2 separate regions of the Homo sapiens genome follow, and region 1 is linked to region 2. Evidence: fine-mapped expression QTL. A gene starts in region 2. The other region holds a variant in brackets. All regions are shown on one strand. Distances are from middle to middle. Region 1 overlaps CIT (citron rho-interacting serine/threonine kinase). Region 2 holds the start of ACADS (acyl-CoA dehydrogenase short chain).

What was found. PIP is the estimated chance that this variant, and not a neighbour inherited with it, causes the effect. A credible set is the group of variants that fine-mapping cannot tell apart.
Region 1: its variant is the best candidate, but not a certain one, in a credible set for the expression of ACADS in ovary (GTEx, PIP 0.89).

Annotation. Positions count from the first base shown.
Region 1 is chr12:119,791,547-119,796,924 of GRCh38, reverse strand. The region is part of intron 10 of CIT (citron rho-interacting serine/threonine kinase); the gene reads left to right. Among named protein-coding and RNA genes, the nearest start is that of MIR1178, 81 kb to the right of the region's middle. The variant C/TTCAC (reference allele first, on the strand shown) is at 2,655.
Region 2 is chr12:120,723,507-120,728,854 of GRCh38, reverse strand. ACADS (acyl-CoA dehydrogenase short chain) reads right to left here and starts at 3,029. Exons shown (of 10, transcript NM_000017.4): 1 at 2,924-3,029; 2 at 1,666-1,829. The coding sequence starts at 2,969. UNC119B (unc-119 lipid binding chaperone B) reads right to left here. Exons shown (of 5, transcript NM_001080533.3): 5 at 5,215-5,348. RefSeq lists a silencer at 2,710-3,219 and an enhancer at 2,856-3,357.

The DNA.
Region 1 (5,378 bases), 930 kb after region 2:
AATCTGGTGATTTCCATCTCACCACGTGATACCATTAATACTACCTTTCTTCGAGACAACGTTCTACTTTCTTCTCTTCTGTATTATGGACACTTGGTTTCCCTCCTACCTCTCTGACTGTCATTCTCACTCTTTTGTGGCTGCCATCAGGCTCTTGCAATGTACGTACCATCTCCTCAAGTTCCATCCTCAGTTATCTTTCTAGTTGGTTCTTGGTGATCTCATTCAGTTCCTTGACTTTAGTTCTTACCTCCCCATGGCCTCCTCCCATCGTACACTGTGTTCCTCATCACCAGGATGTTTTACCAGTTTCTCACCATCCCATCCTCTGTTCCCTTCCTACATAGACAGACCCACTCGCTCACTCAGTAAGCCACTAGGTGCTAGTTTTGGCTTCTTCATTTTATGTAAGAAACTACCACCTTCCCTACCCTTCTAGGCAAGAAAGCTGAGTCATCGTAAATTCTTTTCTGCCTCCCCCGCCATCCCATCAGTTGCCAATTTCTCCAAGTGGTGCCTCTAGGATGCCACTTGCATCCATACCCATCTTTCTTCCTCATTGGCACCCATCATGGACTCTTGCTTGGTCTGGTGCAGTAGCCTCCTCAGTGATTCCCTTGCCTCTGGTTTTCCTGGCTGTAATCCATTCTCCACAAAGGGTGGAATTCTTCCAAAGCATAGGTTGGATGATGTCATTCACCGGCTTACACCTTCAACAGCATCCCAGTGTGCTCATAATTAATGGCTGCTCCTGAACTTGGTATTCAGTCTTGGTATGCCAAGACCCCAGCCTGCCGGCTCATTTGTGTCTCCTCATCCCCTACTGAATCACTTCAATAGTGTTGTCTGGCCAAGCTGTTCAAGGCTCATTAAGGACAGGACCAGGTCTTCCTTCTTTTGCCTGAAACAGTGCCTTGCCCCTGGCAGGTCTTCAATGAACATTTGTTGAATTGAATTAGACTAAAATGGCCAGGGATTATACCAATTCCTTCTGCACAGTGTAGACAACTGCTAATGGAACCTGTTTTCTGTAGAGCACTTCTTGTGTTCCCAGAACTATGCGAGTACTTTATGTGCATTATCTCATTAAATCATCACAATCTCACTGTAACTCTATGAGGTAGCTGATATTATCCCCATTTTACAAATGAAGACACTGATTCAGGAAGATTAGATTATTTTCCTGAGGTTCTGAAGGTAGAAACACATCTAAGACTTGGAGCAATATCTGGTTGCCTCTAGACCACTGTACTATCTACCCTGCCTCTAAGAGCCATGACTTTGCTAGATTATGCAGGAGTTATGGACTTGTCTAATAGTAAAGGTAAAAGAATTGGTTTTAATGAGAATCTACTCTTCTAGGTACTATTCTGAGTGCCTGACAAGCATTCTCATGTAGACCCAGCAATAACTCATTATTTTACAGATAGAGAAAATGATGATCATGATGCTTGGGTTACTTCTTAGGTTCACTCAGCTCACATCTGGCAGAGGGTGGTCAACTTTTCCAAGTTTTAACTTATTTATTTATTTATTTTGAGACAGAGTCTCATTCTGTTGCCCACGCTGGAGTACGGTGACACAATCTCAGCTTATTGCAACCTCCGCCTCCCAGGTTCAAGCGATTCTTGTGCCTCAGCCTCCCGTGTAGCTGGGATTACAGGTGCCTGCCACCACGCCCAGCTAATTTTGTTTTTGTATTTTTAGTAGAGGCTGGGTTTCACCATGTTGGCCAGGCCTGTCTTGAACTCCTGACCTCAAGTGATCTGCCAGCCTCGGCCTCCCAAAGTGTTGTGATTACAGATGTGAGCCACCACGCCTGGCTCAACTTTTAACTTTAGAACTGATATAAACATGCCTATTTTTTTGGGACTGACTGTAGCATACCCATTCAAAGTCCAGGCTTTGGAATCAGACAGACGTGGGCTGAACTCAGGGTTTCACCCCTTGCTTGTTGTGTGAATGAGACATTTCACTGCTTTCAGCCTCAATTCCCTCATCTGTAAAGTGGAAGGTGTAAGGTCGCCTATCTGATAGGTTTGCCATGGGGATATGAAGCACACTTAGTGTTGGTGCCATGAGTAGAATGAGTGTTCATTTCATATTTGTTAATGTTATTTAGGTCCGAGGATGGGTATGGGGTGCTTTGGACTCTCTTTTTCTCCCTGCTTCCGCCTTATAAAGACATCTTGCTGGTTTCTGCCCATTGAGAGAATCCAGCTCCACGTGGGGGGCCTGACAGATGTCCTAATATCTCCATCTAATTTTTTACTCTGAATGGAGTCTGTGATGTATCACTTCAACCTGCACTTTCTATAAAATGCTCTCCAGGCTTCTGGTAGGATCCAGTGCCAGTGGGAAGTGTGCATGTTCCCAGCCTAGATGTCACATGCTCCCACCCACCCTGGAAGCACTTGGGTATCCCCTGGATGGGTAAGTCTGTGTGTCATTGTGCCATTCCTGTCTCAGAACCAATGCTGGGCATCTCTACTTGCAGGTGCTGGAAAGCTTTTTCATGCCAGCATACATGCAGCACACTTCTCATTTTGGATTCCTTTATCCCACGGTGACCTTTAAACTGGCTGCCTGGGGGCACAGAAGTACTAGCACACCATTCACTTATTTATTCATTCATTCATTCATTCATTCATTCA[C/TTCAC]TCAACAAATATATTGTTCTAGTCCTTAAGGCACAACTCTGAGCAAGACAGGTAAGGTCTTTACTCTCAAGAAGCTAGCATTTGGTGGGGAGAAACAAAGGAGAAATAACTACTGTGCACATGTGAGGCAATTGCAGATGGTGGTCTGCAGAATTGGGATTGAGACTGCCTGGGGGTGGCCACTTTAGACTGGGTCCGCAAGGAAAGGTTCTCTGAGCTGAGCATGAGTATTTGTTCAAGAAGGCTGAGTTGCATCCCAAGGTGACACAGCTTTTAAGCCCACACTGAGCAGCTCTGAGGTCCTAGGGGCTGTTCGAGAACCTGGGATATAGCACTGACTATGAGACAAAAATCCCTGTCTTCATGGAGCTTACATGATGGGGGCAGATTCACATTCATTCATTTGTTCATTAATTCATTAATTCATTCAGCTATTTGAGAGCCTACTATGTGCCAAGCACTTTCTAGGCACTGGAGAAGTAACAGTGAATGCAAAGGAGCAAGCATCCCTGCCCACACAGAGTGCATTCTTCCAGAATATCAATAAGGAGTCGGTTAGCAAAAATAAGTGGGAAGAGTATTCCAGAGAGAGGAAAAAAGGGCAAAGGCCCTGAGGCTGCCACTAACCTATGGGTGCTCAATGAACAGAAGGCATGTTTGGGTAGGGGGTACTTAAGGATACACAAGGAACATGGTCTGAGCTGAGGTCATCAGGGCCTTTAGGTATGGACTTTGCTCTAAATTGCACTGAGTAGGAAGCTTTTGCAGGATTTTGAATAGGGTCATGGAATATCTGGGTCTTATTTCACAAAGTGTGCCTCTGACCATTGTGTGGAGGGTGGATAGTGAGGGACAAGAGTTGGATCCAGGGAGGTAAGTGTGGTTATTGCAGTCATCCAGGTGAGAGGCAATGAAATTAACCTGCAAAGTGAGGCACTGGCTTAGAGGTGGGAACTGAATTAAAAATCATGGGACTAGCTATTCTTTTATTAATAGCATGATTTTTGATAAATGATTCTGGAGCTACATATTAATCATTTCAAAGCAAGTGCTCTAATTTAACTAGAGACCACTGCTGGTTGTGTGTGTGAGTGCATATGTGTGTATGTATATGAGTATGTGTGGTGTGTGTCAGTATGTATATGTGTGTATGGTATATATATAAATATATATATTGTGTGTGGTGGGGGAGGGGGGGTGCCCCAAAGCTAGACAGACTCTGACTGTCTTTAGGGGAATAGTGTTTTTGATATTTCCAGGTGTTCCTGATGGGCACCATTGTTATTTTATTTTATTTTTATTTTATTTTTGAGACGGAGTCTCACTCTGTCGCCAGGCTGGAGTGCAGTGGCGCTATCTCGGCTCAAGACAACCTCCGCCTCCCAGGTTCAAGCAATTCTCCTGCCTCAGCCTCCCGAGTAGCTAGGACTACAGGTGCGTGCCACCACACCCGGCCACCATTGTGTATTTTAAAGTGTGCTTATAAAATTAGTTCAGAGGCCAGATGTGGTGGCCCACGCCTGTAATCCAAGCACTTTGGGAGGCCGAGGCGGGTGGATCATGAGGTTGGGAGACCGAGACCATCCTTGCCAACGGGGTGGTGAAACCCCATCTCTACTAAAAATACAAAAAAATTAGCTGGGTACAGTGGCGCGTGCCTGTAGTCCCAACTACTCCGGAGGACAAGGCAGGAGAATTGCTTGAACCTGGGAGGTAGAGGTTGCAGTGAGCCGAGATCGCACCACTGCACTCCAGCCTGGTGACAGAACAAGACTCCATCTCTAAATAAATAAATAAAACAAGTTCACAAATTTCGGAATGCTCAATCTTAAAAGCCAGTATATTTTTGGAAACGGAATGCTGATGAGTTTTTTATTTTTTGCAGCATATTACATCTTGCAGTTGCATGTATTTTTAGTGCTGTTGGCCAGCACTAAAGGTGGGGCCCTCAGCTGAGCTAATTTTGAGTCCCCTCATTTTGGCTTCAAGTATACTCATTCTTGGTTTTCCCAAGAATATCTGGGATTTGTGATCTGTGTTATCTGTGGTTTGGTGTCGTATTTTGCAGGCATAGGGTCCTATTCCTAAGGGAATAAATGGATGGCTTGATGCTTAAGCACGAACTTAATCATCGCAGTAGTGATTAAAGAGTATTCAACATGTACACTTGCTTGTAGGAAGGAGTACACATTGTATTCTCTTTTGATATGCAATATTTTATTCATAGCCCTATTAAGTAATTTTTTTTAACAAAGTTATATGGATTATTTACAGGTACATCACGGGAAAACTGCATTTTATAATTTTCACTGAAATGTTGAGGTTACATGTAAAGCAATTTTTATGTCATATCTGATACATTTTAAGAAAACATGTCTTCCTGTTACAGCGGTAATGACCATGCCTGCTCTTTCTTCTGTGTCATATGCCATTATCCCTATTAATACTCTTTGGGCTTCTATAATTATAAAGCAGATGTGTATATCAGGGAGAGATGTTGATTTCAGAGTAAGTTTTTCTAGAAAATAGAAGCTGGAAAAAAAAGGAAAACCCAAACTTGGCTTCGTGCTCGAAGAGACAGCACTGCTGTGTGTGGGCGGGTGGCTGCGTGCACCCGCTGCTCAGAAGTGCCTTTTCTCTCCATGGGGATAACTGGCTGTGTATCCGAGATGTGGCCAGGAGTAGGCAAGCAACGTGTGGGCAGGCTGCATGTTCTTTTATTAG
Region 2 (5,348 bases):
CCTCATATAAAAACAATGTTTTACGTCCCTTTTAAAACTCATTTTTAAGGCCGGGTGTGGTGGCTCACGCCTGTAATCCCAGCACTTTGCGAGGCCGAGGCGGGTGGATTGCCTGAGCTCAGGAGTTTGAGACCAGCCTGGGCAACACGGTGAAACCCCGTCTCTACTAAAATACATAAAATTAGCCGGGTATGGTGGTGTGCGCCTGTAATCCCAGCTACTCGGGAGGCTGAGGCAGGAAACAATTGTTTGAACTCAGAAGGCGGAGGTTGCAGTGAGCCGAGATCGCGCCACTGCACTCCAACCTGGTGACAGAGCAAGACTGTCTCAAAAAATTTTTAAAAATAAAAAATAAATTAAAATTAAAATTAAAAAAAAAAACAGGCAAGGAGAAGAGGCCGGAGAGGTTTGACTTTTCACAAATCATTAATTAAACAACTATCTACTACTGAGTGTTTACACCAGGTGCTGGACATCTTTAGGTCAGCGTGTACGGCAGTAACATCTTCAACGCGTAGCTGCAGACAGACTGAATGCAAATGGAAGAACACAGTGGCACGGGAGGGAGCGCGCTGATGGGAAACTCAGGGGAGAAAACAGTTCAAGCAGGCCGGGCACGGTGGCTCACGCCTGTAATCCCAGCACTTTGGGACGCCAAGGCGGGCAGATCGCCTAAGGTCAGGAGTTTGAGACCAGCCTGCCCAACATGGAGAAACCCCATCTCTACTGAAAGTACAAAAACTAGCTGGGCGTGGTGGTGCCCGCCTGTAATCCCAGCTACTGGGGGCCGAGGCAGGAGAATTGCTTGAACCCAGGAGGCAGAGGGGTGCAGTGCGTTGAGATTGCGCCACTGCCCTCCAGCCTGGGCAACAGAGCGAGAGTCCATTTCAAAAAAAAATAAGTAAATAAAAAAGAAAATAGGTCGAGCAGGCTGCCGCTGATGAGCTCCATGACCTTGGGTATGTTATTTAACTTGTTCACAAGTCTGAGTCCATGGGGTATATAATAATACTACCTTTGGCCGGGCGTGGTGTCTCACACCTGTAATCCCAGCACTTTGGGAGGCCGAGGTGGGCAGATCACCTGAATTCAGGAGTTTGAGACCAGCCTGGCCAACATGGTGAAACGCCGTCTTTACTAAAAATACAAAAGTAGCGGGGCAGAGCAGTGCACGCCTATAATCCCAGCTACTTGGGAGGCTGAGGCAGGAGAATCACTTGAACTCAGGAGGCAGAGGCTGCAGTGAGGCGAGGTCGCACCATTGCACTCCAGCCTGAGCCACAAGAGTGAAACTCCGTCTCAAAAAAATAAATAAGAATAGTACCTTCACCTCACAGGACCGTTGTGAGGAACAGATGAGATAACCCATCTCAAGAACAGTGCCTAGTGCATGCCAAACACCCTAAAGGCACTATTTAGAATGAGCACAGTGGCTGGCACAGTAAGCAACTGACCATCCACCACATATTACTGTTGTCCCAGAAGTTAAGTCCTGGCTACTGGCCACAGGCTGGACAAGGGAAACTTCCAGAGCATTTTCTGGGTTCCAGGCCCTGCTTTGGGGTTCCTCTACCAGAGTCCGAGTGCCGCTGACTGTCACTGCCACCATTCATCCAGTAGCAGAGGGCAGACCACTATCGTGGGCTGCTGAGGTTGCACTCTCACCTGAGCCGCTGGGAAGAGATGTTCCTTATCCACCTGGGCTGCAATGGGAAACAACTCCTTCTCGGCAAAGTCCCGGCATGTCTGGAGCAACATCTGGTGTGTCTCGGGCAGTTCCACAGACTGGTAGATGGTGTGTAACTGCCGCCAGGCCCTAGGACAGAGAGCTGCCGGCAAGGGCAGAAGTGAGTGGAAGGAGGAGGCAGGAGGTCTCCAAGAATCCTAGTGACCCACTAACTCACCAGGGAGGATTTTGCCCTCCAAGGGACATCTGGCAATGTCTGGAGCCAGTTCTAGTTGTCACAACTAGAGCAGGGGAATACTATTGGTACCCAGTGGATAGGGGTCCGGGATCCCTGCTGAACATCCAACAAGGCAGAGGACAGCCCCCACAACAAAGAACTGTCAGCCCAAAATGTCCATGGCGGCCACTGAAAACCCCATACTAACTGAATGCTTAGTACACTCACTAGACATTTCCATACACTACATCCTTCAGTCCTCAGTATAATACCAACAGTAATAAGACCTCAGCTCTGTGACCTTAGGCAAGGGTTTTAAACGTCAGTGAGCCTCCGTTTCTATAACAAGTGGAGGCGAATAGTATTCCGCTCCTCGGAGTGCGAAAGAAAGACTAACTAGCGCTTAACACAGTTCTCAGTAGCGTTCCCCTTGTAATTCAGGCCAGGCAAAGGAAGCCGTGGCTATATGTGTCACGGCTGCTACAACTGGAGACACGTAAGATGGGAAAGGTACTGTATTAACCAGCAAGAACGAGCATTTGTGGAACACCTGTTACACGCCAGGCACGAAGTGCTTTACATACCCTATGATTTAATCCTCCCAACAACTCTGATTTTCTCTGTGGACATTTTACACATGGGCCAACCGAGGCTGAGGAGGGGCTGTCTTGCCCAAGGTCACAGATGCGGGTCTGGTTCAATCCCAGGCCTGGCTCCGGAAGAAGGACGCACCCTGAACCTCTAGTGGGGGTGAAATGAAGGGAGGGAGATATGGGAACTGGGAACTGGGCTGGTGGCTGGGGTCAATCGGGGGGTAGGGGTCTGTGCAGGAACCAGGGACGCCTGAAGGGCCGGGCTGGGTCGGCGCAAGGAGCAGCAGAACTGGGGCAAAGGCCGTGAGCGCTCCCGGAGTGGGGCTCCGCCTGCCAGCGGCTCTGACAGAGCCGGCCGCCAGGACCTCCGCCCGCTGGGCCAGACGCGGGCTGAAGCCCCGCCGTACGGATCCCCAGCGCACTCACCTCTGCGGGCAGGGCCCGAGGCCCGGGCGAGCAGCGCGGCGGCCATGGGCGACAGACACAGTCCCAGGCTTCGCGACCTCCCGCTGCGAGCGCGCTGTTCCGGAGTGCTGGGGGGCGGGACCCGGGACAGAGGCCACGCCCGTAGGGCCTCGGGAGCGGGGCCGAGGTGCGCTCGCGGCCAGGGGGCGGGGCCTCCAGTGGTCCCTCCCAAGGCGAGGAACCGACGCTCGACTGCGCGCGCGGTCGGTCAGCTGGCTGTTCGTGCCCACATTCGTTAATCAAAATGCTAACAAGAGAAAGCTAAGGATAGAGCTTCGCAGAAAGGCCAGAGAGGTCTTTTTAAAGCATAAATAAGATAGCGATCTTCGGGTTAAAACTTTGTTGGCTTTGTCGGCGGGCCCATCCCTCCTAAAATCCAATTCTATGGCTTAAAAAGCCAAGACCTGCCTTGTCTATCAGGGCCCATGCCCACCGTTCCCTGGTTATTGTTGCTTAGCTTTACGAGGCAGCTCTTCTCTAAGACCCTTAGCTGGTTCCTGACTCGGGGCCTCTGTGATCACTGTTCCTTTTGTCTGGAATGCCCCCTCTTCGTTTAGGTCTCATGGATGCCTGCCCTGACCACACCAAGCCGTTTCTCCCCCTCTGGCTCTCTATCTTTCGTTCTGTTTATTCAAGGCACTTTGCATCTGAAATTATCTGCTTCCCCGACTCGCTCCGAGAAGCTCAAGGACCTGTCTTGTGTTGGTGCTCAATATTTAGGCCCCTGGAGTTGGGCTGCAAGGAAAGCTTTCTTTTCCCCAGAGGCTGTGAAGGTGGGTGGAGATGCTACCCCCGTTCCACTTCAGTACTGTGTCTCATTCCCGATTGGGGCAGAACCCAGACACATATTTGACCCCTAGCATCCTCATCAGGACACCTTTGCCCCGCCCAAGAAACTATGCTGATTTTACTTGTCCCATAAGGGTCTTCTCTTGTGCAAGTGTGATTCTGATTCCCATAGCCTCCTGGGCACCACCCACGCCCTCCCAGGCACCCACACATCCCTCCAACTGCCTTTCTTTCCCAGCACTCAGCCAGGCAGGCATCTGTTCCCAGCATTGACCTATTTGCCAAAACTTCTGTCTCTTCCTCTTGGAGGAAAGTGGAAACCTCGGTCACTACTTCCTAGAAGAAAGCCAATCAAAAGATGCAGCAAAGTCCTTAATGTGTTACCTTTCTTTTTAAATAATGCATTTAAAAGAACGCCTCTAAATTCTCAGTACTTTAAAGTCAAATGAATGGCTCCCATTGGCAAATGCTCTAAGGGCTTCCTCACCTTTCCGTCATCCCACCTGGGAACCAGCCCTGGGTGGAAGAAACGATGAAGAAGCAGGAGAAAAGGGAGAAATAAGTGAGTTGTGTTTGTGAGCAAAGGCCAATAATTGCTTCAGGTGCCACAGAGCATCTAAACCAGACTCTTGAGAATTTGTGACTGTAAATATGAACGTTCAAATTTCATTTTAAAAGTATCCAAGTTTTCCAATAGAGACAGAATCAGATAGTGGTTGCAAGAGGCGAAGTGGGGGAAGTCACCTGGCTGCAAACACAAGGAACTCAGGAACTTTCTGAGTGGGTACGATGGAAATGTCCTATATCATGATTGTGATGGGTAATAAAAGTATTCATTTGTCAAAATGCATCAATACTCTTAATTGAGGTAAATTTTACTGTAGTTAAAGTATTTCTTAATAAGCCTACCTTTATGGCCAGCCACAGTGGCTCACACCTGTAATCCCAGAACTTTGGGAGGCCAAGGCGGGTTGATCACCTGAGGTCAGGAGTTCAAGACCAGCCTGGCCAACATGGGGAAACCCTGTCTCTACCAAAAATACAGAATTAGCCGGGCGTGGTGGCATGCACTTGTAATCCCAGCTACTTGGGAGGCTGAGGCAGGACAATCACTTGAACCCGGGAGGCGAAGGGTGCAGTGAGCCACCATCATGCCATCACATCCCAGCCTGGGAAAAAAGAGCGAAACTCCATCTCAAAAAAAAAAACCCTACCTTTAAAACATGCATGTAAACTTTCAATTTACAAAGCCACTCACCCTGGGAAAATATAAAGCAAAAATATTAAGCCTAAAGTCCAGTACAATTCCTCAATCACCCTAGAAGCCAGCTATACTCTAGTTCAACTACTTACAGAAGGGCCACATAATAGCCAAAGTAAGAGAAACCTGGAGCCCCCATTCGCCCCTGCTCCCCTCAGCAACACAACGGGCCCAACAATCAGGAGACAGGACGAGGGAGACGTACTGTGAAAATCTTTCTTTTATTACTGTCTCATGTGGCAAAATAACATTTTATACAAATAAGTCACCTAGTTTACTTTGGACACAAAGACAATAAAAACTGGAATGTGATTTTGGGGGAAGCGGGAAGGAGGA